3 separate regions of the Homo sapiens genome follow, and all the other regions are linked to region 3. The links come from fine-mapping of genetic effects on gene expression. A gene starts in region 3. Each other region holds a variant in brackets. All regions are shown on one strand. Distances are between the middles of the regions. Region 1 has its middle 12 kb from the start of SLC31A2. Region 2 has its middle 19 kb from the start of ZNF883. Region 3 holds the start of ZFP37 (ZFP37 zinc finger protein).

Region 1 (5,083 bases), 82 kb after region 3:
CACGTACCTGTGCTGGCACATAGGTACGCTCAATAGATATTTTAAAAGTATGTGAATGTATCTCATCTGCTCTAGAATACTGTTTTAGAAATAAAGGACACTTTTACTCATAAAACTAAGTGGGTTCAGCTAAAATCATGATCTTATTTTGTCTTTTTTTCTCCACTGGGGATATTCTCGCACCCCAGAGGTTACTCACACATTCCTCAAATGACACGGAAAGTAGAGGAGTGGAGTGGAAGTTGAGATCGAGGGTCATTCTTCCAACTATTGGGCTTACTCAAGTAGTTTAGGGAAGACACCTCAGAGGGGTAGTTTGGTGGGAGGGGAAATTCTGTGGTCTGGGAGCCAGGAAACTTGTTCTGTTTCCAGGTGGCACCAGTAGCTGTGTAAGCTGTGACAGGCCCAGGCACTGGACACAGGCTCTGTGGCCCTTCTCACCCCTCCCTTCCCAGGTGCCCATCCAGACCATGCATATGAGGACATCTCTGTCTCAGGGACACAGGCAGCCCCTCTCCATGTGCATGGGAGATAGTTCTTAATATTAACAAAAAACTGCCACTGCCATGCTGGGCACTTCAGGCCGCAGCTCAGTGTTTCTTAACTCAGGAGTGTTCCAAACACCTCAGCAGCAAGACCCTATGGAGGCCAGTCCCTCCTTGGTATCTTTTATGTAAGAGAAGAGTTGGTTCAGCTTCACAATCAGGACAAGGAGGGCCAGCTGCAGCCCAGGGCGGGAGGACAAGCCCAGGTCTCAGAATTGGAGTTGAAAGATTGTTAGCAGGTGTCAGAAGATCTGGAAACTGGTCATTAGAAATTGTACAACCTAGAAAATCTGTTTAGCCTCTGTGGACTATCACTTTTGGGACAGTCAGTGAGACAATGCAGATGAAAAGTAGATTCCTAAACTGGGCACAGTAGTGCGTGCTGTAATCCCAGCTATTCAGGAGGCTGAGGCAGGAGGTTCATTTGAGCCCAGGAGCTCGAGACCAAGCTAGGCAACATAGCGACACCCTGTTTTTTTTTTTTTTTTTTAAAAAAAGCATGTTCTTTTACTAAACAGCTGTTGAAATTTAAATATTTACACCCTATCTTTCACAAAGCCCATTTTTCTGAGAAGAAAAAGGAAACTGGTAGAACTTCATTCTTCTTGGAAGAATTGTCAAGATGATCTTTGCACAACCCTCTGAGATCATTTCTCTCCTTTGCTCAGAGATATTTAATGCAGGAATTGCTGCTCTTTTCTTTTTTGTGAATCTGATTAAAATTATGGATCCTCTCGAGAGAGAGAAGTGCCCCTGCACTGACGCACATAAAGTTTTGCATATAACTTCTGTGGCTGTTTTACACCCGGAAGTCTATGAATCCAGGTTGCAAAAATCCAGAAAAGGAATGTTTGAACTCTGAAGCATCTCAGAAGCCAAGATTATGATCCTTGATTACACTGGCCAAGCCAGTCTAGACAGTGCCAGTAGCCTGCCCTGTCTCTCAACTTCTGGTTCATCTCCAGGGAATGTTCAGTTCAGACCTACCAAAGTTGACAGTCCAGGCAAAATCTGCCTTTGAATAGCAGTTCCCTCACCCTCGCTGCTCCTCGGACACTCTCAGCTGCCCTCAATGCATGGCACTGGTGTGGGAATAGGTACAATGGTGAAGCAGTCAGAGGCAGGTGGAGACCTTGTGGTGATGAAATCAGAGCTGGCTTCCAGCTCTGCTCTGCCACCAGTACTGCTTGGTCCTTGGCAGGTCAGGTCCCTTGATCCCAGGCCAGCGCTCCTCCCTCCCTCTGCTGTACCACTGACCTAGGCTCATCTGCAGAGCCACGCCTGGAAAGTCACACTTGAGGAAACAGGCTGCCTCCTAGGAGAGATCCCAGCTTGAATAAAGGCTCCCACTAAATCCAAGAACCTCAGAGAAGGGCAACAGTGCAGGTGTGGAGCTCACACTGTGCTTTCTTTCATAGAGCATAACAGATGTTCTGTACTGTCCCTAAAAAGGGACAGGAATGGAAAATGACCC[T/C]CCTCAGCCTTTCAAAAGTTTGGGGCCAAAGTATTGTCCCCACTGTGGTGTCCTGTTGGAGATTTAGATCTCACATTGGGTCAGTGTCTGGAGGGTAAGAAGCTTCAGCTGGACACAGTGGCCCACACCTGTAATACCAGCACTTTGGGAGGCCAAGGTAGGAGGATTGCTTGAGCCCAGGAGTTGGAAGTTACAGTGAGTTATGATCGCACCACTGTACTCCAGCCTGGGTGACAGAGGGAGACTCTGTCTCAAAAAAAAAAAAAAAAAAGAAGAAGAAGAAGCTTGGAAGTGTTCCTGATAGACCAGAATACCTGAAGTCAGTGAACCAGAGCTGCAGCCCCAGCTCTTCCTTTGCCCTCTAAGTGTCTTCAGGGAAGGCACTATCTTTTCTGGCATCAGTTTTCTCTACTATCAAATAGAAAGTATTTAACACAATGATCCCCAAGGTTTTCTCATATCAAAATGTCTCACAATCTCTGTTATTTATTCACTCCTTACCAAGCAAATGCCTCTAAGGCAGTGCCTGATTTCTGCTTATCACAGGTACCCTTCATTTTTTATGGGCTCAGGTCCCTTGGAGAGAAAACAGAGACATACACTTAGCATCTCAGCACAATTCCCTCCTTACCGGGCACTGTCACAATGGCACTTTGGGAAAGAGCAGCCAGGTTGTGATGGTTCTCTCATTTTACAGATGAGGAAAGCGTTTCAGAGAGGCTGTATGACTCACCCAGAGTCAAACATGGACTCACAGGATGTCAGTGTTAGAAAAGATGTCAGAGATTAAAAGAAGATAATCCTCACTGTCATTTTATTGATAAGGAAACAGGCCCAGGTAGTGACAACGGTGGCACCCTCAGATTCTAAGACTCCTAGTCCTGAGTTCTTCCCATAAAACTGCTTCCATTTCACCATTTGTAAACTGAGGCTAATCATACTGCCCAACTCATAGGGTAGTTGTGAGCCCTTAGCACTTACAGGTAAACACTCAATCAATAACAGCCATTATATGATGCTGCCTGCACTACCTCCTATATCCATTTAAGATTTATCCATGACATCTTTGGCTAGAACTACCCCAAACAGACTTTTCATAAAACATTCAACTTTTTGTCACCTGCAGTGGGGAACTGAGAATGGGTTGGGTAAATAAAGATGAGTGAGGACCGAGAGAGTTGAGGGCCTATTGTTTGGGGGTGGGAAGGTAGCTGTGCCATTGGGAAAGATTCTCCTACAGATGTAGAAGAATCCAGAGCCCAACAGTCCCCCGTTGCAGAGATGAACACAATGGAGAGGGACATCCGGGCCCAACTGGCAGCTCACAAAGAGTTATTGTCACTGTGTTTGACCTTGTTCAATGTCCCTGAAACAAGGGCAGCTGAGTTCTTGTGACAATCAGTGCCAGTCATCGGAGCACAAAACAAGCTCTGTGTGAGTTCCTGCCTCTCTTCACATGATGTTATCTCATTTTGCATGGCACTTTACAGTTTATCCAGGATGAGACTTAGGCAGACTTTATCTTACCTTGTCCCACAGAATCCCTGTGCAGGGGACAGAGAATATCTGTCATCATCTCACAAGATTTCATCTCCATTTTACAAGCTAGAAACTGAGATGCAGAGACTGTTGAATGACTTTATATAAGGTCACACAGGACACAGCTTAGCCAAGACCCAAACTATTGTTTTTGATTCCTTATTTAGTCCTGTCCGAGTCTTCTCTCCAAAGGACTATACTGATCAAGTGATTTTAGTGTCTTCCATTGCTCGACTCAAATGATAATTACTCTGAGAAGTTTTATACAGTTCTGTGTGAAGGTCATATTCTTTCTTTGTTCTGGTTTTCTGTGCCTACCCCAAGCTATCATGAAACTACAATAGAGCGCTGAATATACCGCCTCATGTGCTGGAATGGAGCCCTTCAACATAATTAAAGGATCACAAGCATTTGTGCTCCAGGAAATCTCCAGGCCCTATGGTGATGACTTGTCATTTTAAGTAATCACGTTTTTTAATAAAGCAGTATTTCTAAGAATTGCAAAGGACCTCTGAGTGTCAGAGAAAATAGACTGACACAGCAATTCCACTCCTAGGTATTTGCTGAATAAAAATGAAAGCATATATCCACAGAATCACTTGTACATGAGAGTTTATTGTTGCTGGAAACAACCCAAATATACATTGACAGGAAAAATATATCCACACAGTGGAACCCTACTTAGCAATAAAGAAGAACGAACCTCATAGCTCAGTCTAATCTCAGAGACACTGGGTTTACTGTTGCGGGAAGTCAGGAACCCCAAATGGAGGGACCAGCTGAAGCCATGGCAGAAGAACATAAATTGTGAAGATTTCATGGACATTTATTAGTTCCCCAAATTAATACTTTTATAATTTCTTATGCCTGTCTTTACTGCAATCTCTGAACATAAATTGTGAAGATTTCATGGACACTTATCACTTCCCCAATCAATACCCTTGTGATTTCCTATGCCTGTCTTTACTTTAATCTCTTAATCCCGTTATCTTCGTAAGCTGAGGAGGATGTATGTTGCCTCAGGACCCTGTGATGATTGTGTTAACTGCACAAATTGTTTGTAGAGCATGTGTGTTTGAACAATATGAAATCTGGGCACCTTGAAAAAAGAACAGGATAACAGCAATGTTCAGGTAACAAGAAAGATAACCTTAAACTCTGACTGCTGGTAAGCTGGGCAGAACAGAGACATATTTCTCTTCTTTCAAAAGCAAATGGGAGAAATATCGCTGAATTCTTTTTCTCAGCAGGGAACATTCCTGAGAAAGAGAATGTGTCCCTGAGGGTAGGCCTCTGAAATGGCCGCTTCGGAAGGCGGCTGTCTTTTATGGTTGAAGCTGTAGGGGTGAAATAAGCCCCAGTCTCCCATAGCGCTCCCAGGCTTATTAGGATGAGGAAATTCTCGCCTAATAAATTTTGGTCAGACTGGTTGTCTGCTCTCAAACCCTGCTCCTGATAAGATGTTATCAATGACAATACGTGCCCGAAATTTCATTGCGAATTTTAATTTCGCTCCGGTCCTGTG
Region 2 (5,083 bases), 26 kb before region 3:
CCATGATGCCTGATCAAATTAAATTCAATAACGTTTGGAGTTGAGGTGATGTGGCACCTATCCTTCCATGTGCCCAGTGGAACAGAACAGTGTGGGGGCTAAAAACTTGGTCTGAAGCACCATCTTACACTTACTAGCCATGTGGCCTTAGCGGGGGCAGGGACTCTTCCTGGGCTCTACTTGCTTCATCTACAAAATGGAGAAAATGCCAGTCTCACAGATTTGCTGTACCTCACAGACCACAGATTTGTAATAATTAAATAAGAAGTATAGGTCACGTGCAGTGGCTCACACCTATGATCCCAGTACTTTGGGAGGATGAGGCAGGAGGACTGCTTGAGCCCAGGTGTTTGAGATCAGCCTGGGCACCAATGTGCGACCCCATCTTTACAAAAAAATAAAAAAATATATAGCTGGGTGCAGTGATGCACACCTGTGGCCCCAGCTATTTCACAATCTGAGGCTTGAGCCCAGGAGGCTGAGGCAGCAGTGAGCTATGATTGTGCCACCACATTCCAGCCTGGGTGGCAGAGCAAGACCCTGTTTTTAAAATTAAAGAAGTATATGCTAAATTGCTTAACAAAATTCCTGTGTGGCAGAAACATCCAATAAAAGCTTTAAAAAATTCACTGTGATCACCACAAGGAAACAAAGAACTTATGCTATGCATAACAGTATTTGTCTCAATACTGTACTGAGTTAAAACTAACAGAAGTGTGTAAACAGGAGTTCCATGTGCAGAACTACTCAAGTGTGTAGCATGGCAAGCCTGTCAGCTGCCACTTTGCTGCCCTCTTTTGTGTTATTCTGGTGCCCTTCTTACCACTTTATAGAAAACTACACTTTTAAAGCCTACAAATGACTTTGGATTACATAGAAATACATTAAATTTCACAGACAAACAGCCAAATCATGAGTGAATTCCCATTCACAATTGCTTCAAAGAGAATAAAATACCTAGGAATCCAACTTACAAGGGATATGAAGGACCTCTTCAAGGAGAACTACAAACCACTGCTCAATGAAATAAAAGAGGACACAAACAAATGGAAGAACATTCCATGCTCATGGATAGGAAGAATCAATATTATGAAAATGGCCATACTGCCCAAGGTAATTTATAGATTCAATGCCATCCCCATCAAGCTACCAATGACTTTCTTCACAGAATTGGAAAAGAACTACCTTAAAGTTCATATGGAACCAAAAAAGAGCCCACATTGCCAAGACAATCCTAAGCCAAAAGAACAAAGCTGGAGGCATCACACTACCTGACTTCAAACTATACTACAAGGCTACAGTAAGCAAAACAGCATGGTACTGGTACCAAAACAGAGATATAGACCAATGGAACAGAGCCCTCAGAAATAATACCACACATCTACAACCATCTGATCTTTGACAAACCTGACAAAAACAAGAAATGGGGGAAAGGATTCCCTATTTAATAAATGGCGCTGGGAAAACTGGCTAGCCATACTTAGAAAGCTGAAACTGGATCCCTTCCTTACACTTTATACAAAAATTAATTCAAGATGGATTAAAGACTTAAATGTTAGACCTAAGACCATAAAAACCCTAGAAGAAAACCTAGGCAATACCATTCAGGACATAGGCATGGGCAAGGACTTCATGACTAAAACACCAAAAGCAATGGCAACAAAAGCCAAAATTGACAAATGGGATCTAATTAAACTAAAGAGCTTCTGCACAGCAAAAGAAACTACCATCAGAGTGAACAGGCAACCTACAGAATGGGAGAAAATTTTTACAATCTACCCATCTGACAAAGGGCTAATATCCAGAATTTACAAAGAACTTAAACAAATTTACAAGAAAAAATCAAACAACCCCATCAAAAAGTGGGCAAAGGATATGAACAGACACTTCTCAAAAGAAGACATTTATGCAGCCAACAGACACATGAAAAAATGCTCATCATCACTGGCCATCAGAGAAATGCAAATCAAAACCATAATGAGATACCATCTCACACCAGTTAGAATGGTGATCATTAAAAAGCCAGGAAACAACAGGTGCTGGAGAGAGGATGTGGAGAAATAGGAACACTTTTACACCGTTGGTGGGACTGTAAACTAGTTCAACCA[T/C]TGTGGAAGACAGTGTGGCGATTCCTCAAGGATCTAGAACTAGGAATACCACTTGACCCAGCTATCCCATTACTGGGTATATACCCAAAGGATTATAAATCATGCTGCTATGAAGATACATGCACATGTATGTTTACTGCAGCACTATTCACAATAGCAAAGACCCAAATGTCCATCAATGATAGACTGGATTAAGAAAATGTGGCACATATACACCATGGAATACTATGCAGCCATAAAAAAGATGAGTTCATGTCCTTTGTTGGGACATGGATGAAGCTGGAAACCATCATTCTCAGCAAACTATCACAAGGGGTTCTGGTTCTGGCAGCTGGGAAGTCCAATATTGGGTGTCAGCACCTGGTCAGTTTCTGGGGAGATCTTGTGCTGCATTATAACATGGCAGAGGCGTGGAAGAGGAAATGAGTGCATGTGAAAGGCACAAATCACAAGGGGAGGTCTTGCTCCATAACAATTGGCTTTAGTGGTTAGTAATTCAGTCCTGTAAGAGTGAGAACTTGCTCACTTCAGCAAGAATTAACCCAGTCCCGGGAGAGTGGCATTAATTCCTCTTAACAACCTAATCACCTCTTAAAGGCTCCATCTCCCAACACCTCTACCCAGGGACCAAAATTCCAACACATGAATTTTGAGGCACACATTCAAAATATACCACTTAGATTAGGCAAAAGCATAAAGACAGAAAGTAGAATGGTTGTTTCCAGGAGCAGGAGGGTAGGGAGGATGAGGAGTTATTTTTTAATGGGTATAGAGTTTCAGTTTTATAAGAGGAACAGAGTAATGGAGATGGAGAATGGTGATGGTTGTACATTATGAATACATTTAGTAACACTGAACTGTACTGTTAAAAATGATGAAGATAGTAAATTCTATGTTATGTGTATTTTACCACATAAAAAATTGGAAATAAACAAATGCATTCTGGTGAATTTTTAAATGTTACTCCACTAGTGTATGATGTCTACCTTACTTTAAACAATGAAAGTAATTCTTACTGTCCAAAAACTCCGGGATGATCATGGTGTGTTGGATGTTCTGTTCCATGTTTCCTTCCACTCCCAGCTAGATATAAGGTGAGAGGAGGCAAGAATCAGACATTACATGAAAATGGTATTACATGGAAAAGGTATTAAATGGAAATTTCATTACATGAAAATGGTATTATGCATATGAGGAAAAAATATATATCAAATCTGTTAAAAGAAAACAGCTGAATTAAATTTAAAAGGAGTTTAATTGAGCAGTAAATGGTTCACAAATCAAGCAGCCCCCAGAATCACAGCAGATTCAGAGAGACTCCAGGGATGTCTCATGGTCAGAACAAATTTACAGACAAAAAAAGGGAAGGGACATACAGAAACTGGCAGTGAGGTACAAAAATAGCTGGATTGGTTACAGGTTGGCATTTGCCTTATTTGAACACAGTTTGAACACTTAGCAGTCTATGCGTGGTTGAAGTACGGCTGCTGGGATTGGCCAAGACTCAGCTATTGTTACAGGCCCACACTTCTAAGTTAGGTTTTCAATCTTGTCTGCCTATTAAGCTAGGTTACAGTTTATCCACAAGGACTCAAACACAGAAGTACAGAATCCTTCTCAGGCCATATTTAGTTCGCTTCAACAAATCTTATGTGCTGCAGACGTGTGCATATGTGCACTTACTGCAACACAAATGTATTTTATTATGCTACTTACTGCAATCAAATTTAGAATCCAAATATTGTCTCCAGTTAGTCAAATACGATCAAGACACATCTAAAAGAGGCGATTCTTATAGATTATTATAAACAAGAGATGTAATCAATCAGGAAAACCACACAGACAAGGAAATGCAAGGCACAAAAGATGAAGCCCTGGAAAATACCAACTGGCAAAGGATAAGAAGAGAAAGAGGTGCTGATGAAAGAAATAAAGGAGAAACAGAGGGAGCAGAAGATGAAGGAAGGCGGCGTCAAAAGAACAAATGGTGACATATTTCAAGGAAGAGTGGAGGATTAAATGTTAGATGCAACAAAAAAATCTGCTAAGTTAAGGACAAGAAAATATCCCTTGGATTTGATAACAGCAAGATGGACTTCGTATTATAGAAGTTGTTTCAGAGTAATGATGAACACAGAAGCTCTACTGCATGATACTGAAGTGTGTATGTGAACTGAGGAAGCAGAAACACCAAGATAGTATCAGTTTTCAAAAGCTTGTGTGTTGAGGGAAAGAAAGATGAGAATGCAGGTTACAAGATGGTATTTTTAATTTCAGAGAATTTAAGCAGGTCAAAGACTGATGTGGGAAAGCTCAAGATGATTTAAACGGGTCAGAGATTAAGCAAAGAAAACTACAGAAGAAAAGGAGAAGTAAAAGGCCTATAAGAGAGTGAATTCCTAGTGGACAGTGATCCCTGGGTATAAAGGAGGAAGTTTCCAAGCTACACAAGAGATCAAAAACAAGAGAAATCAAGAAAACAAAAATTGATTACATAAACAAATTTTAAATTCACAGTGGAACCAAAAACAAAGTCAAATTTTAAATTATTATTGAAGAAACACATTTCTTCAGAAAATTATAAAGGGATTGATCAAAAACCCAATAGAAAAAAGGACCAAGAAAGCCCAAGAGGTCCCTGAGGCTTTCCATGGTGCACTGTGCTCCTGGTTAATTGAGAATGGAGAATGGTGATGACTTTTACCAAGCATACTGCCTGTAAACATTTTGTTAACAAGGCACATCCTGCACAGCCCTAGATCCCTTAAACCTTGATTCCATACAGCACATGTTTCTGTGAGCACAGGGTTGGGGCTAAAGTTACAGATTAACAGCATCTCAAGGCAAAACAATTTCCTTAGTACAGATTAAAATGAAGTTTTTTATGTCTTCCTTTTCTACATAGACACAGTAACAATCTGATCTCTCTTTCTTTTCCCTACAAAAACTTTCCTGCACAATGTATGCGTTGAATC
Region 3 (5,083 bases):
CCCATTTCCATCCACCAAATCTAGTCTTTTCCACCATAACCCTTTCCATTCAGAAAATAGAATCACCATCCATCCGGTTCTTCAGGTTAAAAGTCTAGATGTAAATCTCGATTCTTCTCTTTCCTCATACTCCATATATCAATACATTAGTAAGTTCTATTGCTTATCTCCAGATGTATTCTGAATTTGATTTCATTTTGCTGCTACAACTCTATTCTAAATCACCATAATCTCTTGTCTTTGACTATTGCAAAAAGTTCCTAACTGACCTCCCTATATCTACCTACTCTTGCCCCTCTGCAGTCCGTCTTCCATGAGGTAGCCATGGTGATCTTTTCAAGGTGTCAGTCAGAACAGATCATTCCCCTGCTTAAACTCAATGGCTTCTCACTGCATCTAGAATAAAATCCAAATCCTTACACTAGCCAATAAAATCCTACATTATCTGATACCTTCCTACCACTATGATTCACAGCTTTCTACTTTCCCTCTGACTGTGCTCCAACAGCACTAATCTTCCTTCTCTTTTTTAAGCACACCAAGTTTACTCCTACCCCAGGTCCTTTGCAGTTGATGTTTATTTCTTCCTGAAACACTCTTTCTTCAGATCTCTGCATGGCTGCCTCCTTGTGATGATTTATGCCTCAACCCAACTGTCATTTGCTAAGGAAAGCTTTCCATGACTAACCTGGCTAAAGTCATGCACTCCCTACCCTCAATCACTCTGTACCACACCATCCTCTTTTACTTACTTCAGCACTTATTAGTGTCTGGAATAATTTTATTTGTTTATATTTTATGATATCTTTCATATTTCTATAATGTAAGTCATTGAGGGAGGGATTCTGGTTTTGTTTCCTGGTGTGTCTCCAGCATTTAAAACATTCCCTGGTTTTGAGGACAAAGCAGGGACTGCAAAACAACAACACCAAACAAATAAAATAAAAAATACCCCCTGGCATAAAATAAATGCTCATCTTACAGACTGTTCCTACTGTTCCTGCAAGTTTTCAATCACTGACACCCAAATACTCCCCAATCACTAACCTTCACAAACTTCTCCCAATTATGGATCTCTGCAAGTTCCCAACTATCACTCTCCACAGAACAATCATTAACCTCCACAGATCTCCAATCACTGACCACCAAAGAACCCTCAATCATTAAATGCAGCAATCCCCTCAAACTCCTGACCCCCTTAGACTTCTAGTCACAGAATCATAGAGGATCTTCAATCATTAATTCCTACTAATCACCTCATTACTCAAAGCACAGTTATTACTGCTAGACACCACCTAATTATTGACCTGCATACATCCCCAATTACCTTTTCTCCCCAGATGACATACAAATCATCTACCATCCCCAGAGACACCTCAACATTGACTCCCCAAACTCCAACAGTCATATTCCCCCCTCACTGGCCCCCCGATTCCTCCATTACCCACTGACCCTCAAAGATACTGCTAATCAAACTTCCACAGACATCACCGTCACTGACTCCCAAGCCCCAATCTCTGATGCTCCCAGATGCTCCCAATCACTGAATTTCCCAAATCCTAACACTGACCCTCTTTGATAACCCAGGCTCTAACCACCACAGGCACCCATAATCGCTGGCTCCCATAGACATCCCAAACCGCCAACCCCCACGGTCCTTCCCTATCTCTGACACATCACAAAGCCTCCATTTCTGATCTCCTTCCAAACTCCGACACTCGGTGACTGCCACAGACGCCTCCCCATCATTGTCTCTGCAGATCCCTCCTAATACTGATATCCTAAAGCCAAATCATTAACCCCACAGATAACTCAGAACACCGACCTCCCAAAAGACCATCTAGCATCGATTCCACCAATTCCCAAATCACCTATCGTCACAGACTACTCCAATCACTGCCCCGCAAGTACACCATCTCTGACCGCCAAAACACCCTGTCTCATCACAGCTCTCACCGCGGCGCTGGCCTCGGGCTCGGACACAGCCATCTCCAGTGGTCGCCCGGCCTCTTTGGTCGTTTCCGCACTTCTCCTCCGGTCCACGGTCTCTGGCTTTGTCAGAATCTGGACGCCGCTGGAGACCGACATGGCGGCTACCCGGAGGGCGGCCTTAGCGGGTCCGGCAGCCGCGATGGCGGCGCCCTTCGGTAATAGCGCACGGGCGCGGCCATCTTGGCAAACACTCAGCCGTACAGCGGAAGTGCGGGGACTTCTGGGACAATTAGATCGGGAGGTGGAAGCTGGCGAGGGCGTTACTTGCAGGATGCAGGAGTGATGCGATCAGAGCCAGCCGGAACCGAGTTCCGTTACGCACTACAGGACTGACCTGGGCCTGACAACCCACTGCCGGAGTTCGGATCGCATCACTGCCGGAAGATATTTTACAGAATTTGGAATTGCTTTTCCGAATACATGTCAGTGCGGCCAGCGGCTAGAAGTCCGGGAATCACAACGCTTAGTGCGGACTTTAGAAAGGCAGGATGCGAGAAATTGGAAGCATAACGGAGAAAAGCCTGATCGAACAAATAACATTATTTTATAGGGAGAGGACGTTAATCTTTGAGATATACGATAAATCTTTTCATATATAGTATAAGAACAATAAGAAAAACTGAAACAGAAACTTAAGTAAACACACCACTCCTCCGTGAGAGCCCGGGTTTGGTGAAGATATTTCACCAGAATAATCAAGCACTTGGAGAAATAATTCCTTAATGCGCCATTTCATGCATTAATTGCATTCATTGAATATGTGCAGGTTAGGTGCTGCGCTATGCAAGGTACTGGAAAAAGAGTGGAGAGGGGTAGGGATGATGTAAGTCCAGAGTCCAAAGGCCAGAAAACCAGGGTCTCCAATGTCAAAAGGCAGAAGATGAATGTCCCAGCTCAAGAAAAAAGAAAAGGTGGGAGGGAAGTGGGGATACTTAACGGGTTTTTAAAAAAAAAGAAAAGAAAGAAGGAATAAGACCTAGTATTTGATAGCACTACAGGTGTATATATCCAATAATAATTTAGTTGTACATTTCGAAATAACAAAGTATAAATGGATTGTAACACAGAAGATAAATGCTTGAGGGGATAGATACCCCATTTTCCATGATGTGATTATTGCACTGTGCATGCCTGTATCAAACTACTTCATGTACCCCATAAATATACTCACCTACTATGTACCCACAAAAGTTAAAGATTAAAAAAAAATAGAAAAGAGGATTCACCCTTCCTTTTCCTTTTTGTCCTTTCAGGCCCTCAGTGGATTAGGTGGTGGCCACCCACATTGGTGGGGGCTTTTTTATTCAGTTTGCTAATTCAAATGCTAATCTTTTCCCAGAAACACACTAACAAACCCAGAAACAATGTTTCACCAGTTTTCTGGGCATCCTTTAGCCCAGTCAAGTTGACCGATAAAATTAACCATCACCCTAACCATGATATACACAGACTTCCAGGTTACAGAATCTGTGAGATAATAGGTTTGTGATACTTTAATCCACTAAAGCTGGTGATAATTTGTTATCCAGCAATACTAAACTAAGGACTCAGTGAAGACTGAAAAATAATTGATGGCTTGAAATTACTCTTCACCTACTTAAGACACGGCCCCCTACACTGTGTTCCTGACAGAGTATTCTTTGAGCGTCACCTTTGTACGGATAGGCAATTGCTTTGTTTCTGCCTCAGATATGGTCCTGACTTTAATTGTTCCTGATATTAGAGTCGTAAAAAGGTACAATATTTTTTTCAATACCTCTCCTTTCCTTTCTTCCTCACAAATCAGAAAGAGGGGCAGTTCAGTTTCTCAAGGATTTTCTTGAAACCAACATATATATACATAATATATACATATATATACATATACACATATATACACATGTATACATATATACACATATATACATATATACATATATACACATATATACATATATACACATATATACACACATATATATACATATATACACACATATATATATACATATATATACACATATATATATATGTGGTAGGGATGAGTTAGTACGGAGGATCAGAACATAATGTTGTACTGTTGAGTATATTCATTCGAGTAGACCTGAAAATTCTCCCGACAGGGACAGGGGAAGCAAGTGCGGCGATAACTGTGTGAATTCGGCTGATTCTAGTGAATTCCCTAATGAAGAGGTCACACACGGTAAATATGTATGGTATTTATTGTCATTCATACTTGAAGGCACCGGGAGGGGAAGAAAATATTAATCAGGCAAAAAAACGTAAAAGAGACATTACTTCTATGAGACTCTAGCATTCGTAGGAACACTCTCTGGTTCACAAGGATTGACCGAACACCTCGATATGTGGCTCTCCATCTGAGGCTTGCTCCAAATGGCCCTCCACTATTCCAGGCACGTGGGTGTCTCCCCTAACTCTCCCTGCTCTCCTGAGCCCATGCTGCCTATCACCAATCAGTGCAGGTCCTTTCTGAAGAGCTCGGGTGCATTCTCTCCATCCCACCTCTTTTCCCAAGAAAGAAGCCACCTGTTCCAAGACACGAAGTGGGACATTCCCCTTCCACCTCCTTCTCCAAAGTTCCCCAGGTGATCATCACAGGGTAGGGAGACAAGTTCCCAGATTTCAGTTACAAGACATAGGACGCTGGCATGAACACACACACACACACACACACACACACACACACACACACCTCGAAGAGGTAGCCACAAGGGTCATTAAACACATGACGACTGATTTCCAAAAACGTGGATGCAGTTCATCCTTGCCAAAGCCGAGGGTGCAAACGCGGAATGGCGGAGAGATTCCAGAGGCTCACCAAAACCTGCCAGGAATATTTTCCTGACCCTGGGGGCAGAGGTTGGAAATATTGAGGACATTTCTTGGGACACACGAAGAAGCTGAGGGACCAGGCATTTTCCTTTCCACTACGAATGACCTACACCGAGGGCATTTCACTTTCCCCTGGAAATCCCCTATGGTGAGGTACCGCCCCAAGCCCCCACCCCCACTTCCGCGAATCCACGTGGCTCAGTCTCTACACGGGTGTCACTCCAGGTAGGCTTCTCAACGCTCTCGGCTCAAAGGACAA

What was found. PIP is the estimated chance that this variant, and not a neighbour inherited with it, causes the effect. A credible set is the group of variants that fine-mapping cannot tell apart.
Region 1: its variant is the best candidate, but not a certain one, in a credible set for the expression of ZFP37 in lung (TOPMed, PIP 0.51).
Region 2: its variant is the best candidate, but not a certain one, in a credible set for the expression of ZFP37 in monocytes (TOPMed, PIP 0.57).

What each region holds. Positions count from the first base shown.
Region 1 is chr9:113,136,234-113,141,316 of GRCh38, forward strand. No RefSeq gene overlaps it. Among named protein-coding and RNA genes, the nearest start is that of SLC31A2, 12 kb to the right of the region's middle. RefSeq lists a silencer at 2,102-2,297. The variant T/C (reference allele first, on the strand shown) is at 2,020.
Region 2 is chr9:113,028,561-113,033,643 of GRCh38, forward strand. No RefSeq gene overlaps it. Among named protein-coding and RNA genes, the nearest start is that of ZNF883, 19 kb to the left of the region's middle. The variant T/C (reference allele first, on the strand shown) is at 2,109.
Region 3 is chr9:113,054,601-113,059,683 of GRCh38, forward strand. It overlaps ZFP37 (ZFP37 zinc finger protein), which reads right to left and starts at 2,124. Exons shown (of 4, transcript NM_003408.3): 1 at 1,957-2,124. The coding sequence starts at 2,088. RefSeq lists an enhancer at 1,755-2,324.